2 separate regions of the Homo sapiens genome follow, and region 2 is linked to region 1. The links come from fine-mapping of genetic effects on gene expression. A gene starts in region 1. The other region holds a variant in brackets. All regions are shown on one strand. Distances are between the middles of the regions.

What was found.
Region 2: its variant is fine-mapped to the expression of SLC12A9 in whole blood (INTERVAL, PIP 0.98).

Annotation. Positions count from the first base shown.
Region 1 is chr7:100,851,382-100,854,283 of GRCh38, reverse strand. It overlaps SLC12A9 (solute carrier family 12 member 9), which reads right to left and starts at 1,571. Exons shown (of 14, transcript NM_020246.4): 1 at 1,449-1,571; 2 at 1-128. The coding sequence starts at 86. SLC12A9-AS1 (SLC12A9 antisense RNA 1) reads left to right here and starts at 1,670. Exons shown (of 2, transcript NR_146550.1): 1 at 1,670-1,770. RefSeq lists a silencer at 1,335-1,644 and enhancers at 1,935-2,084, 2,155-2,354.
Region 2 is chr7:101,023,028-101,025,929 of GRCh38, reverse strand. The region is part of intron 1 of MUC17 (mucin 17, cell surface associated); the gene reads right to left. Among named protein-coding and RNA genes, the nearest start is that of MUC17, 4.4 kb to the right of the region's middle. The variant G/A (reference allele first, on the strand shown) is at 1,631.

The DNA of each region.
Region 1 (2,902 bases):
GGACCCCCGGCCCCATTGGCAGGGAGGGCAACCCCCTCCTCCCCCAGGAGCCGGTAGGCCAGCAGAGGTGAGCTCTCGCTGGCCATGGCTGAGCACAGGTAGAGGAAGCCACAAATGGGTTAGGTGACCTGCAAAGGAGATTATGTTGCATCAAAAGCTCCCCCACAGAGCTCGCCCACCCCCAAAGACCACTAATCAAACACCCTGAAGCCTCCCCAAAAGACAGAGCTGCTCTCTACTAAAAATACAAAAATTGGCCAGGCTCGGTGGTTCATGCCTGTAATCCCAGCACTTTGGGAGGACGAGGCAGGTGGATCACCTGAGGTCAGGAGTTCGAGACCACCCTGGTCAACATGGTGAAACCCCGTCTCTACTAAAAATACAAAAAGTAGCTGGGCATGGTGGCTCATGCCTGTAGTCCCAGCTACTTGGGAGGCTGAGGCAGGAGAATCCCTTGAACCCAGGAGGCAGAGGTTGCAGTGAGCCGACATCACACCACTGCACTCCAGCCTGGGTGACAGAGTGAGACTCCGTCTCACAAGAAAAAAAAAAAAATTAGCCAAGCGTGAAGGTGCATGCCTGTAATCACAGCTACTTGGGAGGCTGAGACACGAGAATCGCTTGAGTCCTGGAGGCGTAGGGCTGCAGCGAGCCGAGATCATGCCACTGCACTCCAGCCTGGGTGACAGAGCGAGACCCTGTGTCAATAAAAAAAAAAAAAGAGACAACCGCAAGGAAACAGGAACGCACCCACACCCTGCTTACCGGCAACTCAAAAAAGTCCGTGGGCTGCAAATGGTACCAGCCACTGCCCCACAAAAAAGTGGTACCCCAAACCTGTCAGCAGGGGTTTCAAGGCCCCTCCCGGCTCCTGGGGGCCACCCCTTCCCTTATGTTCCTGAGACTAGGGATGGCACCGGTTCTGGAAAGGGGCAAAGGTTCTCTGACGGCACAGGCTTCTCCAGCCTCTCCTTCCTTAACTAGCAATGCAAGAGGAACCAAATCTCCCAAAAGGGAAGTAAGTTACGGGCAGGAGAGCCTTCCCCATCCTCTCCTTCGGTGTCCTGAGCTGCCCCTACCAAGCCCCCCAATGCAATCACCGCACCCACAGGTAACAAGAAACTTCCAACTCTTTCAAAACCCCACCCTCCGTCAATCCTCTCCCTCAACCCATCTCAAACCCCCTCCTCCTCGCCTTAGCCTCCCCGATTCCTCCCATCCACACGAGGCACCCCTCCCCACAAACTCTACCAACCCAAACACACCCTAGCGAAACAGAAACACAGACCGGCTCCCACCGAGCGACACAAGGTCCCCGGGTCCTCCTCCTCCCCCAATCCGGGCTCCTGCCCCTTTGCGCCCGTTGGGGTGCAAGGGAGCCAAGATATCCTTCTCCCCGGCCAGGTGCACCCCACAGCTCGGGGGCCGCGAGGCGCTCACTCACCCACCCGCAGGACGCAGCGCTCGGGGGCGATCCCCGCGAGCCGGGGGGCTCCGCTCGGGCGGAGAGTGCACGGGGGCCGGAAAAGACAGCTGCGGCTACCGGGATGCCAGGCCTGGAGCCTGTCCCCACCCCCACCAGCACGCGCGCGCTATTGGTCCCCGTCCTCGGCCCCGCCCCATGGCGCGCCCGGAGAAGCCCGACCCTCTCTGCTCTTCCCCAGCCTGCGCTGCTCCAGCTCCACGTGCGCCCGGGGATGCAATGCAGCCCTGCAGACAAGCGTCTCCGGCAGGACGTGGGCCGCGGGTCTCGGAGCCTCCTTCACTTAGGTACAAACAATCGTCGCCGCAGGGGCCGGACCCCAGTCCGAGCTCCGAGGTGCGGTGAGCAGCCACCCCACTAAAGGGGGCGTGTGAGGATGGCGGAAAGCGGCAGGGAGGTGGGCGGGGCTGCAACACCTGGGCCAGGTGCGTCACGGGAAATCCGGCCCACTTCGTTCAGGGACTTCTGGAGTTCTAGTCCTCCAACCTCTCAAAACCCTAGAACCTCCACCGGGTCCCAGCCTCGCCCCTCACCCGCTGCGGGGATCCTCCCTTCGCGCCCGATCCAGCTGCGCTCTTCGCTTCCGCCACCGGAGGGAGCCATTGGCCGCCGATCTGGGCCCAGGGTCGCTTTGCACCGTCTGATGCCCGCTTTCTTGCCTCCCTGCAGTGTTCTCACTTCCAGCAGAAATCCTAGAGCCTATGAACTCTACTGAGAGCTGAGACTCCTTCTTCACTCTTTACAGATCCCATGAACAGCAGTACCACCTGCCAACGCGTCCTCATATGTAAAATGGGCATAAACTCGAACCTCCCTCCTAAGGCTGTGAGTTCAGTGAGCATTTAATGGGCACTTTAGAACAACGCCTAAAGGTTTGATAAATTATCCCTTGCAAATAGCACTGCATTAAATTAGCCACTCTGTGAGGTAGGTACCGCTATTTCAATTTTTCAGATTAGGAAATTGGAGCTTGGAAAGTTTCAGATACATTTCCTTTTTTTTTTTTTTTTTTTTTTGATCCAGGAACTATTACACAGGCTGGAGTGCAGTGGCGCGATCTCGTGTCACTACAACCTCTGCATTTCCGGCTCAAGCATCCTCCTGCCTCAGCCTCCGCAGTGCCTGGAACTACACAGGCACACACCACGCCTGGCTAATTTTTAAATATTTTGTAGAGACCGGGTTTCGCCATGTTGCCCAGGCCTCTCTGGAACTCCTGAACTCAAGCATGCGCCTGCAGTCCCAGCTACTTAGGAGGCTGAGGCAGGAGGATCGCTTGAACCTGGGAGGCAGAGGTTGCAGTGAGCTGAGATCGCACCACTGCACTCCAGCCAGGGCAACAGAACGAGACTCTGTCTCAAAAAAAAAAAAAAAACTTTTTCAGGGTCAGTTAGTTATAAGCACTCCCTTGGCATACCC
Region 2 (2,902 bases), 170 kb before region 1:
TGCCCAGGCTGGAGTGCAGTCTTGGCTCACTGCAATCTCCGCCTCCTGGGTTCAAGCAATCCTTCAACTTCAGTCTCCCAAGTAGCTGGGACTACAGGCATGCATCACCATGCCCAGCTTTTTTTTTTTTTTTTTGAGAGAGAGATCTCGCTCTGTCACCCAGGCTGGAGCGCAGTGGCATGATCCTGGCTCGCTGCAACCTCCACCTCCCAGGTTCAAGAGATTTACCTGCCTCAGCCTCCTGAGTAGCTGGGATTACAGGGGCACATAACTACACCTGGCTAATTTTTTTGTATTTTTAGTAGAGGCGGGGTTTCACCATGTTGGCCAGGCTGGTCTCGAACTCCTGACCTCATGCAATCCGCCCGCCTTGGCCTCCCAAAGTGCTGGGATTACTGGTGTGAGCCACTGTGCTTGGCCTATATTTTTTGTAGAGACAGATTTTCACCATGTTAGCCAGGCTGGTCTTAAACTCCTGGCCTCAAGTGATCCGCCTGCCTTGGCCTCCCAAAGTGCTGGGATTACAGGTGTAAGCCACCATGCCAAGCCTCTTTTTTTTTTTTTCTTAAGACGGAGTCTCCCTCTGTCACCCAGGCTGGATTGCAGTGGTGCAAACATGGCTTATTGCAGCCTCCACCTCCTGGCCTCAAGTGATCCTCCTACCTCAGCCTCCCAAGTAGCTGGGACCACAGGCGCACACCACAATGCCTAATTTTTACATTTTTTTGTAGAGATGAAAGTCTCCCTGTGTTGCCCAGGCTGGTCTCAAACTTCTGGGCTCAAGCGATCCTCCCACCTCAGCCTCCCAAAGTGCTGGGATTCCAGGCATGAACCACCCATGCCTGGTCCTCTAATTGTTTTTATGTTGGCTCTGTTCTCCCCAAACCCATTAAATTTTTCTTTTTTTTAGAGACGTGGTCTCCGTCTGTTACCCAGGCTGGAGTGCAGTCCTCAAGTGGGGTGCTGGTGGCCGTGGTCAGTCACCTAAGACAGAGTGTGCCAGCCTCCCAAAATGCTGAGATTACAGACATAAACCACTGCTCCTGGTCAACGATTTCTTTTTTTAAAAGAAGGCCTGCTCCCTCCCATCAAGATGGAGGTGGAGGTTGCAGTGAGCTGACATCACGCTACAGCACTCCAGCCTGGGCGACAGGGCAAGGCGCCATCTCAGAAAAAAAAAAAAAAAAAAAAGGAGGAGACAGAGCAGGGAGGAGGTTTGGGAGTGAAATAAAAGATCAGTGCTCAAGTGCTATTCTCCATTAATTTTGACCAATTACAGAGAAATAGATTGTTCATGTTGAAGCCAAAGCGTTCATCTGATCTCAGAAGGTTAGGGCAATGGGTTGGGTTGAGGCCCCGCAGACCAGGCAACTACCTCCCCACTGGAGGGCCATGGGAGGTGGGAGGATGGGGATGGAAGAGAAGGAGGCAGAAGCAGTTGCGGTCACAACCCCCCTTCTCCTCACTTGTTTCCTCCCTTGCCGTTTTGTTCCAGCTATTAGCAATTTCTTCTTTTTCTTTTTTTTTTTTGAGATAGAGTCTCACTTTGTCGCCCAGGCTGGAGTGCAGTGATGCCATCTCGGCTCACGGCAACCTCTGCCTCCCAGATTCAAGTGATTGTCGTGTCTCA[G/A]CCTCCTGAGGGGCTGAGATTACAGGCTTGTCACACCATGCCCAGATAATTTTTCTATTTTTAGTAGAGATGGGGTTTTGCCAGGTTGGCCAGGCTGATCTTGAACTCCTGACCTCAAGTGATCCACCGCCTCAGCCTCCCAAAGGGCTGGGATTACAGGCATGAATCACTACTCCTGGTCAGCAATTTCTCTTTTAAAAAAAAAAGAAAGCCTGCTCCCTCCCATCAAAAAGTGGGCAAAGGCCATGAACAGACACTTCTCAAAAGAAGATCAACAAATGACCACCAAGCATATGAAAAAATGCTCAACATCACTAATCATCAGGGAGATGCAAATTGAAACCACAATGAGATATAGAATATATCCCAGTCACAGTGATCGTTATTAAAAAGCCAAAAAAAAAAACTGCAAATAGATGTTGGCATGGATGTGGTAAAAAGGGAATGCTTATACATTGCTGACAGGAAGTAAATCAGTACAACCTCTATAGAAAACAGTATGGAGATTTCTCAGAGAACTCAAAGTAAATCTGCCATTTGATCCTGCAATCCCACTACTGGGTATCTAATGAAAAGAAAACAAGTCACTGTATCAGCCAGGGGCAGTGGCTCATGCCTGTAATCCCCACACTTTGGGAGGCTGAGGTGGACAAATCAGTTGAGGTCAGGAGTTCGAGACCAGCCTGGTCAACATGGCGAAACCCCCGTCTCTACTGAAAATACAAAAATTAGCCAGGCATAATTTAGCCAGCATTACAGGTGGTGGGCGCCTGTAATCCCAGCTACTCAGGAGGCTGAGGCAGGAGAATCACTTGAACCTGGGAGGCAGAGGTTGCAATGAGCTGAGATAGTGTCACTGCACTCCAGCCTGGGACAGAGTGAGACCATGTCTTAAAAAAATATAAAAACCAAAAATATTTCTTTTTAATTTTGAAAGGTCTGCTCCTCATGCCCCACCCCGGCAGGGTCTCCCCTCATTCCTTTCTGTTGTGAGCTGAACTGAACCCTAATCCCCAGTGCCCCAGAAGTTGGCCTTATTTGGAGATAGGGTTTTTGCAGGGGATCGAGTTAAACTGAGGTCACTAGCATGGGTCCTAACCCAACACAGAGACAGACACACCCACAGCGAGATGAAGTAAAGATGGAGGCAAAGCGTCTACCAGCCCAGGAACGCCAGAGATTGCCACCAACCACCCGCAACCAGGAAACAGGCCTGGGACAGACCCTTCCCTGGCGACTTCAGAGGGATCATGGCCCTGTGACACCTCGGTT